7 linked regions of the Homo sapiens genome follow. The protein of the gene in region 5 purifies or fractionates together with the protein of the main gene of each other region. This does not show direct contact. Each region holds a gene or a part of one and is shown on either strand. Other genes may lie near its edges.

Region 1 (3,426 bases), on a different chromosome or scaffold from region 5:
GACCAGGACTCTACCCTTATGGGGGCGAGAGATGGCCACCAGCCATTCTGGGCACCCACCCTGTGGTCACTGGAAGGGAAACGCAGGTTTTGCAGCAAAAATCCCAGGACTGTCAGTCTTTGGCTGAGCTGGGTCACATGCTCATGGCTGAGCCAATCACTGTGGCCAGGGGATGGAAGGTGCTGATTGGCTGCTCTCTCCTGGAGAGGTGGTCCTGAGAAGCACCTACTAAATAAACCTGGGCTAAGGAATATGGCTTGGCACTGTTTGTGGCTGACCCTGTCTCCCTCTTCCCGCCAGGTCCTCAGCTCCTCCTCAGCCACAGAGCGGTACCCCATGTTCACCCTGGCCGAGGGCCATGCTCAGGACCACAGCCTGGACGACCTCTGCTCCCAGCTCGCCCAGCCCACACTCCGGCTCCCTCGCACAGGGCGGCTCCTCAGGGCCAAACGCCCCAGCTCTGAGGACTTTGTGTTTTTATAAAGGGAGGGGATGAGGGGAAAGATACAACACTATTTATTTTTTTATTTATGTCATGTCGGGTGTGGGATCTTGAGCTCTGGCAGTGATGATGGTACTTCCTGTTGTCAGCCCCTCAAGCCCAGCTGCAACCAGTCTGGGGCCATTCAGCCAGGGACAGAGCCCACAGAGCCCATACACCTGTCTCCCACCAGCGGGGCCCTCCTGGCAGGGTAGGGAAGGAGGACCCCGGGCACCCCCCTCAGGGCCTGACTCACGTACTGTAGTTTGCACTGGACGCCCGGGCCCTCCCTGTCCCAAAGCCCCCTTGGGGGAACTGTGGCTGCTGGGGGCCAATAAAGCTGTGTAACTTGATCGTGGGTGTGGCTGGGCGCAGCGTTCTGAGGGGATGTGGGGTCTGGGAGGTGTCTCGAGGTGAGAGCTCCAAGTCACGGGAAGTTTAAGTCAGCCTCAGTTTCCACATCCATAAAATGGGACGACTTCCTTACCCACAGCTACACGTGTTTTTTAATTTTTTTTTTTTTTTCAAGAGACAGGGTCTTGCTTTGTTGCCCAGGCTGGAGTGCAGTGGTGCAATCATAGCTCTCTGTAGCCTCAAACTCATGGCCTTAAGTGATCTTCCTTCCCCAGCCTCCTGAGTAGCTGGGACTACAGGCATGTGTCACCACATTTTGTAGAGATGGAGTCTCGCTAAGTTGCCCACGCTGGTCTCCAATTCCTGGGCTCAAGTGATCCTTTCACCTCGGCCTCCCAAAGTGCTGGGATTACAGGCGTGCCTGGCCACAGATGAGAGGATCTCTGCAGCAGATAGTACTTGTGGGTGCGAGACCTGTCCAGGGCTTGATTTGAGGAGAGGAGCCTGAGGCCCCTGCCTGCTCCCTGGTGCTCAGGAGCTGTTCTTGGGCCCCTGTTGTTTCCTCCGCTGCCGGCCCAGCTGGCGGAAGTGCAGCCGTTTGGGGTTGAGGCCAAAGGCCTGCAGTCTCTGGCGGCTGAACTCGCATCCACCAAGCATCACAGTGGGGCCCAGCAGCCGTGCCTTCTTGGCCCTCCTCCGCTTCTGGGGGGCTGGCTTCTTGTGGGGTGATACAGGGGCTTCCTCTTCCTGTGCTGGGGGACTCTCCGGCCCCATCAAGCTGCCATCAAGGGCTGGCAGCTGCCTCTGTGGGCCGGCTTCATCTCTCTGTGGCTTCCCTGTGGCTTCCGCAGGTGTCTCTGCCCTGAGGGAGAAAAGTCAGGGCTCAGCCCAGGCCTGTCAAGATCAGGCCCATTCTTGAGCACGCATGCCCCATTTTACAGACAGGGAAAGGAGGGGCATAGTGAAGCAGCCGCACAGCGACCGAGGGCCTGCCTGGGATTCAGACCTGGGTTTCAGGCCAAAGCCAGCGCTTTTCTACGGAACCCAAAGACTAGATTGTGAGGCTGAGGATTCTGGTATTTGTGCCTGGGCCTGCCCTAAGCTAGTCACATCAATTAACTCATTTTAGCCTTTTTCTTCCTTAGAGACAAGGTCTTGCTGTGTCGCCCAGGCTGGAGTGCAGTCGCGTTACCATAGGTCACTGCAGCCTCCAACTCCTGGGCTCAAGCGATCTTCTCGCTTGAGTCTCCCAAAGTGCTGGGATTATAGGTTGGAGCACACACCTGGCCTCATTTTAGCTCTAAATAAACTGTGTGCATCTATCACCCCTGCCTTCTAGACTGGGCGAAAGCAATCCTAATAACAGCTAAGACCTATGGGGCATTTACCATATCTTAATCACTTTACGAGAATTAACTCATTTCATCCTCTGCAACTTGATAAGGCAGAACCGTCTCTATCTCCATCTTATGAGAAAGAGGCCCAGAGAGGGGTAGCGACTTGCCCAAGGTCACACAACGTTGGTGCCCATATAGGATTCGAACCCAGGTCTCAGAGCGGGGGGCGCTGCATTCCCAAAGTCATGCAACAAGAGGTTGACGGAGCCAAGACTCAAGCCTGGGCCTGACAGGCTCCCCACCCACGCTTCCCCAGCCAGCACTGCTTACTCTTCTCGGCAGAGTGACTTGAAGACCTGCCGCTTTTTCCATGAGTTCTGGGCCTTCTGGCTGTACGCCCGCTTGTCCCGCAGCTCCTCCTGCTCTGACCTGCAGACAGATGCCCCTGTGTTGGGTGCTCTGGGAAGTGCCCGAGGCTGCCCGCCCTGCCCCCTGCGCATGTGGCCCCGCCGCGCCCCGCCCCATCACCTGTACATGCAGGTCTTCTTTAGGGAGCACCACCGGTTCAGCTCCTTATCGTCAGCAGCGAGGATCTGCGTGGGAAGGGAGAGTGGGGACCTGCTGTGATATTGCCCAGGCGGGGCCTTCCCTGAGCCTAAGTCATGTCATTAGTCAAAACGGTAATGCCGCTACCACCCAGCAGGGTTGCCATGATGGCCAGAGACAGCTGATCTCTACAGAGGCCAATGATTTTTGTAGAGGTCAGCAGATGGGGTAACTGAGGCTCAGAGAACGGATCCTTGCCCTAGGCCAGATGGCTGGGAAGTTGGCTGAATTGATTCCAGTTTGAGCCTCAGGGCCCTTGAGCTGTCACCCATACCCGGCCATCCCCAAAGCCTCAGAACGGGCAGGGGTCGCTGCCAACCACCAGGCTTCCTAATTACATATGAAACTGTCATTCCCAGCCTCTAGGCCTGTTTCCAAACCTACTGGAAGGCCATCAGAAAGAGGAAGTGATTGAATGCCGATGGTATAAGCTTAGTACACATCGGCTATTTTTACTGACCATGAAAATGGTCGTGCACCTTCAGCCGTCATCAGTCAGGCATAGTAGGTACCCACAGCCTGCCAGGTGCCACACACTTTGGTCTCATTTCTGTTCCTTCCATAGTCACCAAAGTTGGGGTGCTATCAATTATTGTCTCACTTTACAGATGGGGAGTTGAGGCACAGATAGGGGAATCATTTGTCCAA
Region 2 (3,500 bases), on a different chromosome or scaffold from region 5:
CCTCAGCCTCCCAATCCACTTCGATTTTCTACAGGCAACTCAAACTCAAAATAACCAAAAATTAATTATTCTCTCCAGTGAAAACACTCTTCCAATTTTCCCTATCTGACTATGGCACTACTGTCCGATTTTTTAAGACAGAAACCTGGATGACATCCTTAACTCCACTCTCTTCCTTACCCCTCACCCCCTACATACACAATCAATCACCAACATTACTTTCTTTAGTATCTCTTGAATTAATTATCTATTTATTTTTATTTCCACCACCACTAAAACAATCCAGACTACTTTCATCTCTCCCTTATTATAGGAAAGTATTAATGAAGAAGCCTCCTACTGGGTCCTCCTACCATCATTTTTGTTCCTGCCAATCCATTCTTCAGAGAGCTGAAAGAATACTATACTCATGTCATCCCACTGTTTATTTTTTTAAAAAAGAGAGAAAACTCAAAATGGTCCTTAAAAACTTGTCCCCAACTTTCAGCTCATTTTTCACTATTCTCTAAACTAAATTCTATCCAAACATCCTCCCTATTCACTCTTGCCTTTAGGCAAATAAGTATACCTGGTTATACTTTCCCTCTGCCTTTTAGAAATGCCTCCCCCTTTATTCACAATTGTCTCAGATTCATTCTTAACAACTCTGGAAACATCCAGTTGTAGCACAAATAACACTGTATTAAAATTGCTTAATTTACTGGACTCCCACATGGACTGCAACATTTGCCCTACCTCCAGCTTTACCTATCAGGCTATGGTTTATTTATCACTATCCGTAACATGTGCACAGGGAAGACTTTTGATAAACATTTGTTGAAAAATGGCAATGAAAATTTTTGCAGTTCTGGCCTTCATCTCCAATAATATACTATTTGTTATTTTATTTTTTTTGAGACAGTGTCTGGCTCTGTCGCTCCGGCTGGAGTAGAGTGGTATGATCACAGCTCACGGCAGCTGCAGCCTCGACCTCCCAGGATCAGATGATCCTCCCACCTTAGCCTCCCAAGTAGCTAGGCCCACAGGCCTGTGCCACCACACCTAGCTGATTTTTTAATTTTTTGTAGAGACAAGGTCTCACTATGATGCCCAGGCTAGTCTCAGACTCTTAGACTCAAGTGATCCTTCCACCTCAGGCTCCCAAAGTGCTGGGATTACAAGCATAAGCCACTACACCCAGCCTTACCCACAATAATATACTATTAATAGCAGGGACATCCAGCTTAATGTATCAAGCCACTATTGGTCATAAGAAAACAACTGACATAACAACAACAAAGCCCTCATGGGCATTCTATGAAGTTACAAAGTAAAGAAATAATGCACATGAGTCTTCAGTATATGAGGCATTCTTTGAAAGTCAGCATTTCATGTTTTCCTGCTAATTATAATAAAATGCAAGATAAATATTTACTGAAAATGATACTTTTTAATGTTATCTTTTGAAAATTAAAAAGTAACCCAAACACTTAGTAAAATAACCAAATTACAAAAAAAATAAAATTGTCTCCTTACTCCAAGAACCCCACAAATCCTCCTTCTCAGAGTTAACAATCATTCATTGTTTTTTAATGTTTCTCCCAGACTTCTCGATGCATTTGTGTCAAAATACATACACAAACACACATATATTTTTCTTACCACAAAAGACTACTAGATGCATGTTCTGTATCCTTTCAATTAACAATGCATCCTGAAAACTCATTCCATATAAGAACACACAGATCTACATTTTTCCTTTTAACAGCTACCCAGAAAGCCACTGTGTGGCTATAATTTATTTAATCACTTCAGTATTGATGGACATCACACTGTTCCCAGACTTTACATTATTATAAACAATGCTTCAAAGAACAGTCTTAAACATACATCTTTGCACACGTGTGCAAGCATACTCAGGATAAATTATGACAAGTGGAATCTATGGTCAAAGAGTAGATTTGGATAAATAGTTTCAAATTGCACTCTGAAGAAGTCACACCAATCTATACTCCCATCAGTAAAATATGAAAGACTATTGGCCCATGTTTTTCCTCTATGTTGTACATACTGTTAAACATTTTCATCAATGCCCATCTGAGATTCAAAAAATAATACCTCATTAATTTGCATTTATTTAGATACATATTAGGTAGTATATGTGAGGTTAATGTATTAGTAGGACATGCATATTTTTTATTTTGGTAAATTGCCTATTTGTGCCCTTTATCCATTTTAACTGGATTATTGGCCTTTAGTTGATTTCAAAGAGCTTCTTTATATAATAAGGAAATTAGCTCTTTGTCCTACATTGCATATGTTTAGAATTTTTGGTTTTGTTTTTTAAGCTTCTTACATCTGAATGTACATTTAACTAGGCAAAAGTTTTTAATTTTAACATAACCTACATTCAACTTTTAAGGAAGTATCAAAATGGCTTGCTTTGCAAAAATAATATAAAAATTTTAACATGAAAACTACTATTTTATTGAACATGGAATATATGATAAATGTGTAATGCATATAAAAACGTTTCCATTTTACAGGCAATTGAATGAATATACATTAAATATACATTACCTGCCTTTCCGCTGTATGGCACTAGCTTTGGAAATCCATACCATTTTTAACATTGTAACAAAATTCAGAGCATCAAAGGATTTCTGTAATATTTAAACCATCTTTATGTTAGAATATAAAAGGTATTTAAAAGGTAATAGCAAGAATGTTATCAACATATTTTAACATGCCAAAAGTTTAATTCAAAGTCCTCTCTTGATTAAATAATTAAAACAGCAGTACTGATTTTTAATAAACCCTGATTTTCTGGTTACAAACATACTAAGAAAAAAGGATTTAAAAACTAAACTCAGAAGAGCGTAAAACTTCTCCATTCTGTGCTCTGCTGAGCTATTTGTTGCTCTCTGCCACAGCTGGATAATGGCAGCCAGTTCTCATAAGACATCAAGATTGGAGAGAACGGATCTATTCCCTTGAGGTCACTTTCCTATCAGATTTGCATCACTGTGCAGAATAAGAAGATCAAGGAAAGACATTTTCTGAAATACTTTTCAGGGACCTAACCTTGTGGAGTAAGAATAACAATCAATAATCTTATCCCAAAGAGAAATATTTTTAACCACTTCCACTTTACTTCCTGCTGAGCTACTAACAAAGTTAGCCTTTCCCGAACGTTACAATGAAGAAAGTAAAAAAGAACCATTGTTATCCACATACTTATTCAAATAACCTACAGTGAAAATTTATTGTAGAGAAATATTTTAAAGAAATACAAGCCTAACTAGAACATGTATTTCAGTCACTCGGTACTTATACTTTCCCTTTCATAAAATAACTGCATAGAGCAAATAAAAATGTTTGCATAATAGTTTATAAAATTTTTAGAAAACAGCTTATTTGGTTTTTAATATGACATTACATTTGTCAATTTTGTATGTTAAATAACTTTTGACACTACCCATGTTTTAAATTTCAGTTACTTAATAAATAAGTAACACCTA
Region 3 (3,500 bases), on a different chromosome or scaffold from region 5:
AAACTAGCTTATAGTTTAACTTAACTTGTTGTGTATGTGAATTTAGGGATGGAAACTTTTTTTCCCCTATTTATTCTTTGTTTCCTTCTGGGAAAAAACCCCACAAAAATCAGCACTCCTTTATGGATACATTGGAGCTTTTGAAAGAATTGTAAACTCTAGGAAGGGGAAATATCTGTGTCTTGATTTCTTAGTTGCCTTGAAAATCATGTACTGAACTGTAACCGCTAACTTGACTGGATGAACTAGTTTGCTTGTGTGTAGAGAGTGTATTGCTTCCTCAGATTTCACTGTTTTCATCTCCTTTTCCATCTTAGTCTTTATTCCTTAAGACCAAAAACTGTAATATCCTTTAGAAATGCTCTAGAAGATCTGTATTGTGTAGAATGATCATGTATTTATAAATATTTTACAAGTTTAGATTATAAAATGAAAAAGAAGGTCATGTGTTTTGGGGGGTATTTTGCATGTTCGGATTTTTTTTTCACTTCACCGAACCCTTCTGATTCTTTCAAACTATTGCCAGGTAGTTGTTAGTGTTTCTAATTGGACTCTTAATATGAACTTCAAGAAGCTGTTACCAGTTATCGGCTCTGTCATCTGAAATTTTAACCACTTAATTTAAAGTTACAATTTTAGAATTTGTTTTTGTTGTTTTACCTTAAGAAACACAATAAATCACTGTTTAAAAAAGATCTCAATTTATATAAAGTACTGGAAAAAAGCTAAGTAATTTTTAGTTCTATCTATAATCTCCGTAGGATGAATTAGAAATAAATTGTGATGAAAAGAAATTAACTGCTTATTTATGAATCTAATCATTTAGAAATGTCTGAGAGTAACACTGCATTCTTATAGAAACAAAGCACAAATTGCATTCAAGCTCTGAATTGATTTTTTGCTTGGAGCTGTTGTTACAGTAGCTGTAATTTTGCTACCAGAATGTCTTAATTTTTTAAATTTGTTTTTATTTCTAAGCTCTTGGCAATGACAATAATTATAATTTTAACATATCTTCACTGTAGTCAACATGTAGAGTCTGCTTCCCTCATTATTGCATTGCTAAGGCCTTTTTAAAAAGCTTATGCTTACATAATATACTCTTTTTTATGGACACGTTATATGTTTCCAAATCTGTGTATTGTGATTTTTACATACTAATGAATATAAACAGGTGATTTTAAAATATTACTGTGCTTCTTTGGTTGAATGAGCTGGTATTGATGTAAAATACTCTGTCATTGATGGACCACTACCTGCAGCTAAGCAGTGAGCAGAATCTCCGGGAAATGACTTAGTCTGGCCACATGCATAGCCCATCTTCATAATGTCGCAGCAGAAGGTTCTTTGTGGTTAAAAGTTTTAAAGCCTATTTCTTTATAGGTAACCCTCTCAGGTATATTTACCTGGTAGAAAAACATGTAGATTGTTTCTATTACTTAAATGTTTTAATTGGACTGTAGTTTAGAAATTACAGGACCAGCTTGTTACAGATTATACACTATTCTGTTACTTTTATTTCTGAAACTTAAAAACAATAAATTCTTTTTCTGTGTTTCTAGGTTAGAACTTTTTTATTTTATTGCACACTGAACAGATACTGTTGCTTATTGAATATTGTGTAAACCCTTCTTTGGCTTTCCTTGCCCATTGCAATTTGATTTAAGCCTACTAGAGCCATTGTATGTGACAGCTATATTGTATTACAAAGTAAAAATATATGAGTGTATTGAAAACAAAGTTGTTTTAACTTTTAATTTTGTTTCATCACCCAGTCTTTAATTTGAATTTATAAATTACAAAAAGCTACTTTGATCAACTGAATGTAGGTATCCAAGCTCAAATTCTTTTAAACCTACAAAATAGGTAAAATTATTATACAATTAAAGTTATTAATAAAACTGACTTAAGAGAGCAGAATGTGACCGAACACTTACACATTCTCAGCAGTTCTGTTATTCTTGTTTGGTCTCACCTAAAGTTTTTATCGTATTTTAGAATCGAACCTTTTGGATCTCTGTCAGAAATGAATGTTTATTTCTTTCAAGTTTTATCAAGTATTAATACGTTTTATTTATATTCTTTTAAATGTTTTATTCAGTAGTTCTGTGAACTTCAGACTTTGTTGTTCAGCCTAATCGTATGCTTCTGTAACTTCTACACATTTTATAAGAACTCATTCAAAGTTGTAGTCCTACCATAGTGTTTCAGGGTTCCTTGTTGTGTACACTTTTACTATAATGGCAAAATGTTTCAAAATCATTCAGCTTTTTAAAGAAACTTATTATGCAAAAGACACTCTTGAAATGCTGTGCATTTGAGCTGAAGTGAAAGAATTTGTTTCATGTTGTACTTTGCATTATTTTAAGTTTTCACATCTTTAATATGCTTTTCTATGCTAATTATATTAGAAATCTATAAATATAAGTGGTTTCTTTGTTTAAACTAGTCATTAAAAATTAGGTTGAAAATGAAAGTGGATTATTTTAGCAAATCGTCCCTTCTAGATGGATTTCATTTCAGTTTGCTATTCTGTGCCTCTCCTGTGAGCATCATCCACTGTAACAGTGTTGTTTGTGAAACCTTCCGAGTATAGTGTAACAAACTAGGTTTTTTCCCTCACATAAATAATATAAAGAAACACTTAGTTGGTGTTTTAGTTAAACTATAATTAGTTTATTGTCCAAAATCAGGGAGTGTTTTATGGAGGGGCATTTCATTATTGATCATAATCATGCCATTTCCAGCAAGATGAGATTGTCCACTTAAATTAAAATCTTCCTTTTCAAATATAATTCACGCTGAATACATTTCAACTCATATGCCTCCTTTTGTGGAGTTTAATATGATGATAGCAGGTTTTTATAGCCACAGGCTTCTTTTAAGTATTTATTTTTTAACAATATGACTTAGTATAGGTTATATTGGGATGGGGCTGGTGGAAGTGGGGGGGTGGTGGCTGGTCTCCCTGAGAATCTGAGAATCAACCTTTCACCTATTTATTCTTATCTCTCCTATACCTCATGTTTTCCAATCCATATAGTTATCATCAAGGTGGCTATTTGCAGCAGCTTTTTTTTTTTTTTTAGAATAAGGTATTCATTTTTGTTAGGAGATCAATACAAGTACAATTTTGTAAATTCCTCTTAGGAGAATATGGAGAAAGAAATAATGCATGTACATACACACCCACATTTAGGAATATAGTTGTCTCTTGGTATCTGCAGGAAGGATTGGTTCTAGGACCCCCAAAGATACCAAAGTTCATGGACGCTCAAGTCCCTTATATAAAATGTTGTAGTATTTACATATAACCTACACACATCCTCCCTTATACTTTAAATCATGTCTAGATGCCTTATAATACCTAATATAATGTAAATGCTATATAAATAATGGTTATACCATATTGCTTTTTTGTGGTTTTTTTTCAATTCTTTTTTAATATTTTTGATATTTGGATGCATAGCCCATGGATATGGAGGGCCCAACTGTGTGTT
Region 4 (3,500 bases), on a different chromosome or scaffold from region 5:
AAGGTGTTAGCCACTGCAATACAACAAGAAAAACAAAAGGCATCCAAGACTGGATAATGATCATCTTTGCAGAAAATACCATGGAATCCTCAGAAAACTACTTGGTGGAACTAAGTTGCAGGACACAAGATCAATATACAAAAATCCATCATATTTCTACTTATTGGCGACAAACAATCGGAAATAAAAAATTTTAAATTACCATTTACAATAGAATCAAAAATATAAAATGCTTAAGGATAAATCTAACATAAGATGTGAAAAATCTATATACTGAAAATTTTAAAACATTGCTAAGAAAAGTTAAAGATCTAAAGAAATGGAGAGATACCATATTCATAGACTGGAAAATTAAATATTGTTAAGACGTCATCTATCCTCAATTTGCTCTGTAATCAACAGAATCCCAATCCAGATATCAGCTTACTTTTTTTGTAGAAACTGATATAACGGATTCTAAAATCCATATGGAAGGGCAAAGGCCTACAACAGTCAAAATAACTTTTAAAAAGAACAAAGTTAGAGGACTCATACTACCTGATTTTAAGACTTATTATAAAGCTATTATAACCAAGAGAATAAGAAACTGACATAAAGACTAGACAAACAGATCAATGGAAAACAAAAAGACTCCAGAGAAAGACCCACACCTATATGGTCACAGACTTTCAACAAAGATGCAAAGTCAACTCAGTGGAGAAAGAATAGTTTTTCTACAAATGGTGCTGAAATAATTAGCCATATGCAGAAAAACCCACAAACTTTGATCCATACTTCTCACTCTAAATAAAAGTTAACTCAATAAGGATCAGAGACCAAAACATAAAACCTAAGACTATTAACACTTCTAGAACAAAACACAGGAGAAATCTTTGTGATCTTGAATTAGGCAAAAGGTTCTTAGATAAAACACCAACGGCACCAAAAGCATAAATTCATAAAAGACAAGGCTAATTTGGATTTCATCAAAATAAAGACTTTCTGCTCTTTGAAAAACACTGTTAAGAGAACGAAAAGATAAGCCACAAACTGGGAGAAAAATTTGCAAATCTCACATCTGATAAAGGACATGTATCTAGAATACACAATGAACTCCCAAAACTCTACAACAGAACATCCCTATTTTAAAAATGGGCAAAATAATCAAACAGACAAATAAGCATATGCTAAAATGCTCTACATTGCTAGTCACTAGGGAAATGCAAATTCAAATGACAAGGAAATAATAGTAAAATTTTAAAAGTCTAAAATAAAATTAAAGACTGAGCATACCTAGTTATTGACAAGAATATGGACCAACTTGAACTCATACCACCTAGTGACAACGTAAAATGGTATAATCACTTTGGAAAACTCTTTAAAAGTTACATTTACCACAAGACCTAGCCATTCCACACCTAGGTATTTATCCAATAGAAATTAAAGCACATATCCATACAAAGACTGGTACAATAGTATTTACAATAACTATATTTGTAATAGCCAAAAACAAGAAAAAGCACAAATGTCCATCAATAGATGAACAAACTGCTCTACCCACACATTGGAATACTATTCATCACTAAAAAGGAATGAACTGCTAGTAATTGTAATAACATGGCGTAATCTCAAATTATGCTGAGTCAAAGACTCAGATACCACCCCCTCCAGTACATATTATATGATTTCATTATATAAAATTCTAGAAAACGCAAATTAGGCCGGGGACAGTGGCTCACACCTGTAATCCCAGCACTTTGGGAGGCCGAAGCAGGCAGGTCATGAGGGCAGGAGTTTGCGACCAGCCTGACCAACATAGTGAAACCCCGTCTCTGCTAAAAATACAAAAATTAGCCAGATGTGGTGGCAAGTGCCTGTAATCCCAGCTATTCGGGAAGCTGAGGCAGGAGAATCACTTGAACCCAGGAGGCGGAGGTTGCAGTGAGCCGAGATTGGGCCACTGCACTCCAGCCTGGGTGACAGAGCGAGACTCCGTCTCAAAAAAAAAAAAAAAAAGAAAGCAAGAAAATGCAAATTAATCTATAGTGATAGAAAGCCTATCAGTGGTTGCCTGAGGAGGAACAAGAACTGAGGGAGGGAGGGAGGGACAACAAAAAAAACCCAGGGTATCTTTTTGGGGGTAATGGATATACAGTTGACCCTTTAACACAAATTTGAAGGTAGGGGTCCACTTATACACAGAATTTCTTCCACCTCAGCCACCCTGAGACAGCAAGACCAACCCCTCCTCTTTCTACTCAGCCTACTGAAAGTCAAGATGAAGATGAACACATTTATGATGATCCACTTCCATTTAATGAATAGTAAATATATTTTCTGTTCCTTACAATTTTCTTAATAACATTTTTTCTCTAGCTTATGTTACTGTAAGAATAAAGTATATAATACAAAATATGTGCTAATAGACTGCTTATGTTATCTGTAAGGCATCCAGCCAATAATAGGCTATTAGCGTTTAAGTTTGGGGGGAGTTCAAAATTATACATGGATTTTCGACTGCACAGGGGACCAATGCCCCTAATCCCCACATTAAGGGTCTATTTATTATTGCATGGGCAGTGGTCTGTTCACAGCCCCAGATGGATGACTTATCCAAGTCGTTTTGAATTCTGGACTTGTAGATTCACAACCTGACAGGAACTGTGGTATACATCCAAATGTCAATCTCTGGCCACAACGGCTCATATAAACCTTGTTTCTGCCTTCCACGGACTTACTTCCAGGACTCTGCTGCACATACCAAAGCAGTGTAGCAGAATGCTTAACAACACACAGAACTAGCCTGGAATCCATACACTACCATTTCAGTTGTGTAATTTTAGGGAAGCTGTCTATGCTCTGTGAGGCTGAGTTTTCTCATCTGTAACATGGGAATAATGGTACTTACCCCAGGGTGGTTGTGACAACCGATTTCATCAACATAAAGCACTTAACACAGTGCATGACACATCTTAAATGCTCAGTAAATGTTCTAAGTTATTATCTCCATTCCCCTTTCCTGTAGTTCCTCACTCTTCCATCTATATGACTGCCACAGAACATCATCCTGAGTTTCCTGACCACTGTTCCAGAAACCCAAAGCACGTGTCTACTGAACACTTAAAATGTAGTTACTCTAAAATGACATGTGCTGCAAGTTTAAAACACACCAGATTTTGAAAATTTAGTAAAAAAAAAAAAAAGAACATAAAATATCTCACTAGTTTTTAACTTTTAAAAAATGTGACTCCTAGTAAATTTTAAATTACTTATGTGTTTCACATTATACAGTCACCCTTCTGTAACCGTGGGTTCTGCATCTGTGGATCGACAATATTCGGGGGGGTAAAAAAAAAAAAACTGTATCTGTACTAAACACTGTACAGACTTTTCTTGTCATTATTCCCTAAACAATACGGTGTAACAATTTACATAAGACCTATGTTGTATGAGATATTATAAGTAATCGAGAGATGATTTAAAATATACAGGAGGATGTGCCTATATAGGTTATATGTAAG
Region 5 (3,500 bases):
CAGTGACAGACCCCCACTCCCACTTTTAGCTCCTTCCCCTCACTGGGTGTCAGAGCCTCCTGAATGTTGTTTCCCCAGAAAGTCACTTCCTGAGCACCCTTTCTGTGGTTACCCAGGCCACCCCATTCTTTTTCTCTGAGCATTTACACCATTTGCAATCATGTTTTTTTGTTTGTTTTTTTGTTTTTTGTTTTTTTGAGACGGAGTCTTGCTCTGTTGCCCAGGCTGGAGTGCAATGGCGCGATCTTGACTCACTGCAACCTCCGCCTCCTGGGTTCAAGTGATTCTCTGCCTCACCCTCCTGAGTAGCTGGGATTACAGGCGCCCACCACCACACCCAGCTAATTTTTTGTATTTTTAGTAGAGATGGTATTTCACCATCTTGGCCAGGCTGGTCTTCAACTCCTGACCTCATGATCCACCTGCCTTGGCCTCCCAAAGTGCTGGGATTACAGGCGTGAGCCACCGCGCCCAGGCTGCAATCATGTATTTATCTCTGCAATTCTTTGGTCAATTTCTGTATTCCAAGTTGAGCAATATGATAGCCAGAGTTGAGTTAATCCTGTGCACTGCAATAACCCAGCCCCAAGCATAGGACACAGATGAAATGAATAAATGTGGGTGTGTGCACGTGGCCATGAGTAAAGGTGAGACACTGGGAAGTCTCCTGGGGTGGGCAAGTGTGTGAGTCGGGTGAGCTTCCCCTCCCCTTACCCAGGGCTCTGTAGGCAGGCACAATGGTGACCGTGATGGGCTCCGCAGTCCCCCTGGTCTGGATGGTGAAGACGAGAGCATCGGGGACTCTCTGCTCCATCCTCAGGTCCTCGAGCCCGAGGTCCAGCAGGTCCTGGCTTTGCCACATGGTTTTCCATATCAGCCTCAGAACATCTTTGTGATGCTTGGCTGCCTCCTGGAAGCTGTGGAAACAGCTCAGAAACGCCACCAGCTCCACCTCTCTGGTGCTCCTGAGAACCGTGCCATTCCCGAAGGAGCCCACCTGCAGAACACAGAGCCCCGTCACCCTGAGGCCCACTGCCATGAGCCAGGCAACCCCTGCGGCACTTCACATGCACTGTCTCACTGAATGCTCACCACCCGCTGAGGGATGGGTTGTGGGTAGTACTAATACCCACACTTTACAGGTGAGAAAACTGAGATGTCTGGAGGATCTCGAGACATGGGATGGAGAAATGGGGCAGCCTGAAAAAGATCTTGACACTTCCCTGTTTCTTAGCTAGGTAAATGTTCTGACTCCTAAGACCTTCATCTCTAAAATGAAAGCAATGGCAGAATATGAGTCACTGGGCTACTGGGAGGATCAGATGAAATAATGTATGCCAAGGGTTTGGTGGGGTGCCTGGCACACAGGAAGTCAGCAACACATTTGTCTTTCTCCTCATTAGTCATTTGTCTCAGGTCTCGCAGTTTGCAGCCCTCAGAGCCCAGACTCTTTTTTTTTTTTTACACAGGGTTTCACTCCCGTTGCCCAGGCTGGGCTGCAGTGGCATGATCTTGGCTCAAGCAATCCTCCCACCTCAGTCTCCCAAGTAGCTAGGACTACAGGCCTGCGCCACCATGCCTGGCTAATTTTTGTATTTTTTGTAGTGACTGGGTTTTGGCATGTCGCCCAGGCTGGTCTCGAACTCCTGGACTCAAGCGATTTGCCCCCTTGGCCTCCCCAAATGCCCAGCTTCTTATCTACTACACTGCATTGCTTCTGAGACCCAGTCTTCTTACCCACAGAGTAAGGCCTACTCCAGAGGAATGGTAGCATCTACTCCATAGGGTTGTTTGAGGATTCTGGGGGTGGTGGTGGGGCTGAATAATTTCATGACATTATAAAGCAAGGAGCAAGTTTGCCTGGTGGATTTAAGAGCCATAGGCTGTGAAATGGAGCAGCCTGAAAAAGATCTTGACTCTTCCCTGTTTCTTAGCTGGGTAAACATTCTGACTCCTGAGACCCTCATCTGTAAAATGAAAGTAATGTTGGAACAAGAGTCACTGGGCTACTGGGAGGATCAGATGAAATAATGTATGCCAAGCGTTTGGTGGGGTGCCTGGCACACAGGAAGTCAGCAATACATTTCTCTTTCTTCTCATTATCCAGCTGACTTAGACAATCTCTTCTGCTGCCGGGGGGTCAGTTTTCCTGTTAGTAATGGAAGGAGGTCGAGAAGGGATTTTTCGATGTTTTGAGATTCTAGATGAGCTCTCCAGGCCCTGGTGCCTCTGGTATGCAAAGCGCCACAACTCTCTGGCCTCCTCTCCTTCTCATTCTGTGTTGGGAGGTGGAATTGCTAGGGAGGCATCAGACCCCCAGAAGGCTACTTTTCTTGGTGGTTGGAGTCACTGCACAAGAATCAGATTCCAGCTGTTGCCGGATGATATAACATGCCCTGTGTGACATGAGCACGGATGCTGGATGACATGAGCACGCCCTGTGTCTGGCACCCATAAGAGCCCTGTATACATATTATTCCTTTTAATCTTTACTTCCCAGCCAGGCATGATGGCTCATGCCTGTAATCTCAGCACTTTGGGAGGCCAAGGTGGGCGGATCATGAGGTCAGGAGTTCGAGATCAGCCTGGCCAACATGGTGAAAGCACATCTCTACTAAAAATACAAAAATTAGCCAGGTGTGGTTGTGTGCACCTGTAATCCGAGCTACTGGGGAAGCTAAGGCAGGAGAATCGCTTGAACCCAGGAGGCAGAGGTTGTGGTGAGCTGAGATCTCGCCACTACACTCCAGCCTGGGCGACACAGCGAGACTCCATCTAAACAAAACAAAACAACAAAAAAAAACGCCTTCACTTCCTGTATTGAGGTGGGTACTAGGAGAATTATCTCCAATGTACAGATGAGAAGACTGAGGCAGTGAGGAGCTTGCCATGGTCTCCCAGCCAGAAGGCAGCAGAGTCAGAGAAAGAGCCAGAACTCAAGTAGGGGATGGTTCTTCCGCCTCTTTCTTCCTCGTGACCCAAGGCTGTGAGCCAGGCCCTGCTTCCAAGGGACCATGGGCATTCAGACCCAGCACCTCCACCCCCTGGGAGAGGGTTGGAGATGGCACCCTGTGTGTGAATGAAGGACACATTCCCCCCGAAGGCCAGTCTAGACTTCCCTTTCTTTTTGAGACAGGGTCTTGCTCTGTTGCCCAGGCTGGAGTGCAATGGCACGATCTTCACTCACTGAAGCCTCGACCTCCTGGGCTTAAGCAATCCTCCCACCTCAGCCTCCGGAGTAGCTGGAACTACAGGCATGCACCGCCATGCCCAGCTAATTTTTTATATATATTTTTGTAGAGTCGGGGGTCTCACCATTTTGCCCAGGCTGGTCTCGAATTCCTGGGCTCAAGCAATCCTCCCACCTTGGCCTCCCAAAGTGCTGGGATTACAGGCGTGAGCCACTGTGCCTGGCGTAGACTTCCCTTTCTGCCTTTCCCACTGGTAAGATCCAGGCAGAGAGAAAAGAACACATCCAGAACAGGCTTCCTGATTTGCTT
Region 6 (3,500 bases), on a different chromosome or scaffold from region 5:
TCTTGGGAGTTAACGAGGAGTCTCTAACACACTGACGGCCACTGACCAGCTTATTTTAGAGATGAAAAAGAGGGCTAATGTGTGGGAAAGGGATCTGCCCAAGGTAACCAGATTGTGATTTGGGCCCAAGTCCAGGGCAGAAGAAGAGGAGTTGGGTAGAGCTGGCTAGGAGTGGCCTCTCCCTCAAGCCTTTCTCATGTACCCATGCTGTCTCCCAGGAAACAAACACAAGTGGGTTCCATTACAAATAGACATGAAGCCTGAAGTGCCCAGAGAGAAACTGGCTTCACGCCCCACTCGCCCACCGGAGCCTAGACACATACCTGCCAATCGCGGAGAGATCAAAGGTATGCACTACCCACTATGGAGGGCCTGGACTTGGGAGACACCCTCAGGCCTGACCTGGTACCCCTCTCCCCATAGGGTCTGAGTCTGCCACCTACGTGCCCGTGGCCCCCCCCACCCCAGCCTGGCAACCAGAGATCAAACCGGAGCCTGCCTGGCACGACCAGGATGAGACATCGAGTGTGAAGAGTGATGGGGCTGGTGGGGCGCGGGCTTCCTTCCGTGGCCGTGGACGGGGGCGTGGTCGCGGCCGGGGACGCGGCCGGGGTGGCACTCGAAGTACGTGAGGCCCCTTTGGGCTCCGGGATGTCCAAGGGTGTGCAGCAGGGGTGGTGGGCAGGAATCTCCTCTCCCTCATGGCACCCGTTTCCCCCATAGCCCATTTTGACTACCAGTTTGGCTACCGAAAGTTTGATGGTGTGGAGGGGCCTCGTACGCCCAAGTACATGAACAACATCACCTACTACTTTGACAATGTCAGCAGCACCGAGCTTTACAGTGTGGATCAGGAACTGCTCAAAGACTACATCAAGCGCCAGATGTGAGTGTGCGGAAGCCTTCTTACCCTGGAGAAATGAGTGAGAGGTTAGGGGTTGCTAGAGTGTCATAGCTGGGCAGGCCCTTCTGGTGCTTAGCAGCAGTTTCAGCCTCAGGCTGAAAAGATAGCTTTTCTCATTGTTTATTAAAGAAGTGATACCACATTCTCATTGTTTATTACAGAAGTGGTACAACATTTACCTTAAGAAAGTTAGAAACTATACCATTACAAAAAGGAAGGAAAATATTTAGAATCTACCCCCTTCTGTTCTTCCATTTGTAATGACAACATTGACAGAATACTAACATTTATTGAATCCTTAGTATCGGCCAGGCTCAGTGTTTATTGTTGTAGAGGCATTATCTTAGTCCTGCAGTTCTTATCTGTTGAATTCCTATGAGCTGAGTCTTTTAGCCCCAGTTTATAGACAAGCAAACCGGCCCAGTAATTTGCACAGAATCTCACAGCTAGTAAGTAACAAAGCACAGATTTAAATCCTTTTCTGTCCTATTATAGAACCTTTGTTCTTAACCACTCTGATATATTGTCTCTCAGTCCAGTAAGGAAGTCATACAAGAAAATAAATGGTTGCAATAGAGTGTTTATAAGTGTTTTAGGAGCAGAAGAGAAAGTGACCAACAATATTTGGACTGGAATTTAAAGGAGGATGAGGAGTTTGACAGGCATGTCGAGGGGCTTAGGGCAGAGGGAGTGATTTGACCCAAGCAAGGTAGGGTGTCATGAAGGGATCACATCATTTCTTTTCAGCCCTCAACACTGTTGGTATATAGGATAAGGATGGGGTAGGTCAGAGGCTGTGTGAGATTGCTGGGGTGTGTAGCAGAACAAGGAAGGCATACTCATAAAACTGATGCACCAATCCCTCGGTGATAACTACTTCTTCCCTCCACTTAGTGAATACTACTTCAGCGTGGACAATTTAGAGCGAGACTTCTTCCTGCGAAGGAAAATGGATGCTGATGGTTTCCTACCCATCACCCTTATTGCTTCCTTCCACCGAGTGCAGGCCCTTACCACTGACATTTCACTCATCTTTGCGGTATGTCTTCCTCCCTGGAGCTGGGATGCAGGGGAAAGAAAGGTCCTTAGGGAGCTGGAGTTTGGGCCAAGGCAGAAAGCCCTGGAAGAGTCATCATCTGATGACTTCTGCTGAAGTCTCAAGGCTTGGCTAGTCTCCTCCTCTCCCTCCTTCCTTCCTTTCTCTCCCTCTCTTGCTCATTATGGAAAATGTCAGACACTTAACAAAAGTAGAGTAGTATAATGAGCCCATCATCAGCTTCGGCAGGTATCAGTTTATGGCTAATCTTATTCCATCTGTACCCTCATCTGTTTATTCTCACATACTACATTGAAGAAAATCCTAGAAAACCTAGCATTTTGTTCACAAATATTTCAGTATAGATTTCTAAAAGATAGACTTGTTAAAAGAAAATAGCCACAGTATCATTATCATACCTAAATTAACAGTTTAACATATTAACAGTTCCTTAATATCATCAAATATTTAGTTCAGATTCATCCCAATTGGCGCCATATATATATTTATATATATATTTTATATATATTTATATATATTTTATATACATTTATATATAAAATATACATTTATATATATTTATATATTATATATTTATTATATATTTATATTTATATATTATATATTTATATATTATATATATTTTTATACATATTATATATTTATATATTATATATTTTTATATATATTATATATTTATATATTATATATATTTTTATATATATTATATATTTATATATTATATATTTATATATAGTATATATATTATATATATATTTTATATATTTATATATAGTATATATATTATATATATTTTATATATTTATATATTATATATATATTTTATGTATTTATATATTATATATATATTTTATATATATATATAGTTTGTGAGAATCAGAATCCAAATAATACCTATAGGCTGGGTGCAGTGGCTCACACCTATAATCCCTGCACTTTGGGAGGCCAAGGGGAGGGTCATGTGAGCCCAGGAGTTCAAGATTAGCCTGGGTAACATAGCAGGACCCTGTCTCTACAAAAAACTAACAAGACCTGTGTATTGTCTTATTAAGTCTCCTCTTGCCTCTATTTTTCTTTTTCTTTGCCGTTTATTATTTGAATAGACTAAGTTGTACATCCTGTAGGATTTTCCACAGGGCACAGGGATGTCATTTTAACATGTTCATCTGTACTCCAAGTTTTTTGTAAATTGTGATCTAGAGGCCTGATCAGATTCAGGTTTTGAAGTTTTTTCCCCTCCTTGTCAAGAATACTTTATCATAATGATGTATTTTCTCTCAGGTGGCACATAACATTTCATTTGATTGTCTCTCTTGTGCTATAAGCTGCCAGCAGTGTTCGTTAGGATTGCAAAATGACAATATACTAATTCTGTCAGTCGGTCTTCATTTATTAGGTGGAATACCTCTTCAAGAAGTAACTTTGCCTCATCAACTGTTCAGTTACCAAGAGGTATAGTTTGTTCAGGAAGGGCAGATTAATGTTTGATCTTCCTCCCTTTGTTAGCCAGTTTGCATAATTATGAGTTGATCTCTAATA
Region 7 (3,500 bases), on a different chromosome or scaffold from region 5:
ATATACTACTATGACAGTGTAAACTTTCTGGAAATACTGTATAGGACATAGGAAACTTTGAGGAAAAAACATACACATACAATCACACACAAATTATAAAATACACTACATTTTGAATGTGTATATGTGTGTGTATATGTGTGCATTTTGCTTATAAATGTATTAAAATATCTATAGATACACAAGAAACAAATAACCTTGGTTGTCTCTGGGGAAGTTCCCTAAGAAGCTGAGGATCTGGGTATAAGGGAGACTCACTGTTTGTTTTCAAGAACAGACATATAAGCTTATACATACAAAGAAAATATCTGGAAGGATGCACAAGAAACAACAGTGATTACTTCAGGGAATTGTTAGGATTGGTGAGAAACTTCTACTTTGTGTATTACACTCTTCTGTGTTGTGTTTTAACTTTTTATCATTATCATTTATCTGTCCTATAAGTTTTTTAGGTGAAAGAATGGCATGAGACAGCTGACTGTGGGTTGTAGAATACAGGATCTCAGAGTCCCTTCAGTGTAGAAGCTTCTTTGATTCTAAGGTGTATACCATTCTCTCCTCACAGAAAAAGCTTATTTCCTCAGATTTCTTATATGGTCAAACCAACATGTCAGACTTACTGAAATGGAATCAGAATAAAAACAGCTGAAATAAAAATCTCCACCCAGACAAATCAAAGAACCAGTTATTAGCCATTTCTCATTCTGTAATGACCTGCCTTCCTCAATAAACAAGTTGAATTTATTCTCAATAAAGGTAGCAATAAGGATTGGCTAAAGTTTTACAACATGTTCAAAGAGGTCCTTGTTATGGAACGCACTGTGTTCCCCCAAAATTCATACATTGAAGCCCTAACCCCAAATATAATTGTATTTGGAGACAGAGACTTTAGGGAGGTAACTGAGGCTAGCTAAATGAGGTCTTAAGGTTGGGCCCTAATCTGATAGGATTGCTGTGCTTATAAGAAAAGAGAGACCAGAGTTCACTGTTACTTGTTCTCTCTCTCCCCTCGTCAAGCCACAAAGAAAAGGCCATGCAAGCACATAGCGAGAAGGCAGCAGTCTGCAAGCTAGGAAGAGAGCTGCACCCAAAATGAATCAGCTGGCACCTGGGACTTCTAGCCTCTAGAGCTGTGAGAAAATAAGTTTCTGCTGTTTAAGCCACCCAGTTTATGGTATTTTGTTATGTCAGTCCAAACTGACTAAACAGTTCTTTATCCCCATCTCAACTCCAAGGAGTTGTTTAAAATCTAGCTTGATGTTGAGATGGTTATATCATCTGTTTCATCTATATTATCTGTATAAGATGCTGTTTACCTGGTTATTCTATCAAGTTGGACAATCCAGAGAGAGGTAGAACCTCAGCATTAAGCTAGGTTTTCAATTCCCTAAGAATCTTAACCCTCAAACACCACTCCAAAACTCACTTAAAAAACAAAACAAACAAAAAGGAAACAACAAAAAAACCTTTGGAAGAAAGGAGTATAAAGGTTTCCTTTTCAGCATTTAAACATAAATTTGATAGAACACCTTAGAGTCCTATTTAAAAAGAGATCTAAGCAGAACTGATGCTCATTTCCGTAACTTCAGTAACTTTTTTAAAGTCTAAAGACATTTATGAAAATCCAAACAAACCTTTATCCTCTTGCTCCTCAGTGCTGGTATCACTCTGAGCCAGTTCCTCTCCATCATCAATACTATCGCTTTCCTCTAGGTCACTGTCCTCCTCAGAATGATCACTGCTTTTTGCAGGGGCTGGTCTCTTGACTGCTCTGCAATGGCACAGATCAGAACTAAGGAGGTGGGCTGACAGAGGGCCTATTCAATTTCATTACACATGTCAATTCTGCAATGATGCAGGCAGAAAAAGGAGAATTTTTCCTCTCGGAGACAATCTTGAATCTTCCTCTGCTGTCTCAGAACAGGATGAGCTGCTTACCTCTTCTGAATTTGCACAGGCTTGGTCACCTTTGATTCTATATTCTCTTCCTCTTCATCTTCATCATCAAAAACCCCATCTTCTTCATCATCATCATCGTCATCATCATCGTTTTCTTCCTCTTCCATATCCTCTTCCTCTCTGCCCTTCTTTTTAACTGATTCCTGATGTTTAGATTCATGGCTCTTTTCCTCACCTATGGAGGGAGGTAAAGAAAGGAGGAATTCATTTAATATCCAAAACAATGTTATTTTAACAAAAGTAACCAATACTCCAAGTTCTTGGTTTCATCGGTTTTACAGAATTTCGTATATTTTTCTTACTGCATATAACAGGAGAAAGTATAAAGAAAAGAAAAAGCAAAAACAGAAATAAACAAAACTCTCAACACCCAGATTCCTTTAGAGTTTGTCCCATTCATCAGTCTGAAGGTTCATCTGGCCCAGACTGAAAGAAGTGGCAACTGAGCCTCTCCAAGCAGTCTACCATTCGTACATCATAGCCAGCAAAATGCTCACTAGGGGGCAAAGCCAAGCCATGAACTTTAATCTCAGTGCGTTCTATTCTCTGAGACCCTGGTGGCTTACCAGCCAATTGTTTTCTAAATAAACCTCAAGTTTTAAGTTTCTCTATTCTTAATGTTCCATCACTCCTATTATGCACAGCCTGGAAACAACAGCAAGTAAAGGGGACAGTGAACTCAGGCTCACTCACAGCCACTCCCAGGAAGGGGCTTAGACTCAAAAGAGCCTAGGTTTTGGGACCAGAGCACCAAATGGTACAATATGAATTGACAAACAGACCTGGACTCACTTCTGAGCCAGCAGGAATTCAGAGTTTTCCCTGAAAGCCCAGTCTCATTCTTTTGGTTAATCTTCCACAATAGTCTTACTCTGATAAGCAGGTTCTCTTACACTTTTTTTTTGAGACGAAGTCTCGTTTTGTTGCCCAGGCTGGAGTGCAGTGGGGTGATCTCGGCTCACTGCAACCTCTGCCTCCCAGGTTCAAGAACCTGCCTCAGCCTCCCAAGCAGGTGGGATGACAGGCGCCCACCACCAAGCCCAGCTAATTTTTGTATTTTTAGTAGAGATGGGGTTTTGCATGTTGGCCAGGCTGGTCTCAAACTCCTGACTGCAAGCAATCCACCCAAAGTGCTGGAATTACAGGCAAGAGCCACTGCACCCAGCCTTTTTCTTACACTTTTATCATGAACACAGGAGTTGTTTCAATACTCTCACCCAGGTTATACAACGCCCCTACTCACCCAACACTACCACATCTTACCTATAGCAGAAACAGACTGTGTATCTTTATATTTATCCTTTGCCACGGCCCAATCCACAGCCACTGTCCGGCCTGTCAAGCAGAAAAGTGGCATCAGAAAGGCTCTCCTTTTAAAAACCCTACCTCTGTAAATGACCCCTAGTCATCACAGACAATAATGGAACCAGTGGAGACAAAGAAACTGCCAATTCAGGGAATGCTGGTCTTAAAATAAAGCTCCTAGTCACTGCCTACTCCTTTTAACCCTTAACCTTTTTATCAATGAACAGAAATTTTGC

Evidence for each region.
Region 1: the proteins of OASL (region 5) and KRI1 purify together in Homo sapiens (affinity purification with mass spectrometry; 2 studies listed by BioGRID and IntAct, with this or other methods). This does not show direct contact.
Region 2: the proteins of OASL (region 5) and YTHDC2 purify together in Homo sapiens (affinity purification with mass spectrometry; 2 studies listed by BioGRID and IntAct, with this or other methods). This does not show direct contact.
Region 3: the proteins of OASL (region 5) and STAU2 purify together in Homo sapiens (affinity purification with mass spectrometry; 2 studies listed by BioGRID and IntAct, with this or other methods). This does not show direct contact.
Region 4: the proteins of OASL (region 5) and DDX24 purify together in Homo sapiens (affinity purification with mass spectrometry; 2 studies listed by BioGRID and IntAct, with this or other methods). This does not show direct contact.
Region 6: the proteins of OASL (region 5) and LARP1 purify together in Homo sapiens (affinity purification with mass spectrometry; 2 studies listed by BioGRID and IntAct, with this or other methods). This does not show direct contact.
Region 7: the proteins of OASL (region 5) and RBM28 purify together in Homo sapiens (affinity purification with mass spectrometry; 2 studies listed by BioGRID and IntAct, with this or other methods). This does not show direct contact.

What each region holds. Positions count from the first base shown.
Region 1 is NC_000019.10:10,552,585-10,556,010, forward strand, and holds the end of KRI1 (protein KRI1 homolog), read right to left. Parts: intron 2,766-3,426; coding exon 2,701-2,765; intron 2,602-2,700; coding exon 2,503-2,601; intron 1,698-2,502; coding exon 1,367-1,697; 3' UTR 501-1,366; downstream 1-500. Other genes in the region: cysteine protease ATG4D isoform 1 precursor, read left to right, coding at 301-483.
Region 2 is NC_000005.10:113,555,194-113,558,693, reverse strand, and holds part of YTHDC2 (3'-5' RNA helicase YTHDC2), read right to left. Parts: intron 2,643-3,500; coding exon 2,560-2,642; intron 1-2,559. UniProt on the Homo sapiens protein: 3'-5' RNA helicase that plays a key role in the male and female germline by promoting transition from mitotic to meiotic divisions in stem cells.
Region 3 is NC_000008.11:73,547,841-73,551,340, reverse strand, and holds part of STAU2 (double-stranded RNA-binding protein Staufen homolog 2), read left to right. Parts: exon of another isoform or gene 1-1,740; intron 1,741-3,500. UniProt on the Homo sapiens protein: RNA-binding protein required for the microtubule-dependent transport of neuronal RNA from the cell body to the dendrite.
Region 4 is NC_000014.9:94,074,703-94,078,202, forward strand, and holds part of DDX24 (ATP-dependent RNA helicase DDX24), read right to left. Parts: intron 1-3,500. UniProt on the Homo sapiens protein: ATP-dependent RNA helicase that plays a role in various aspects of RNA metabolism including pre-mRNA splicing and is thereby involved in different biological processes such as cell cycle regulation or innate immunity.
Region 5 is NC_000012.12:121,032,747-121,036,246, forward strand, and holds part of OASL (2'-5'-oligoadenylate synthase-like protein), read right to left. Parts: intron 998-3,500; coding exon 715-997; intron 1-714.
Region 6 is NC_000005.10:154,793,377-154,796,876, forward strand, and holds part of LARP1 (la-related protein 1), read left to right. Parts: intron 1-218; coding exon 219-347; intron 348-423; coding exon 424-624; intron 625-723; coding exon 724-886; intron 887-1,798; coding exon 1,799-1,943; intron 1,944-3,500. UniProt on the Homo sapiens protein: RNA-binding protein that regulates the translation of specific target mRNA species downstream of the mTORC1 complex, in function of growth signals and nutrient availability.
Region 7 is NC_000007.14:128,333,909-128,337,408, forward strand, and holds part of RBM28 (RNA-binding protein 28), read right to left. Parts: intron 3,295-3,500; coding exon 3,223-3,294; intron 2,135-3,222; coding exon 1,939-2,134; intron 1,772-1,938; coding exon 1,635-1,771; intron 1-1,634. UniProt on the Homo sapiens protein: Nucleolar component of the spliceosomal ribonucleoprotein complexes.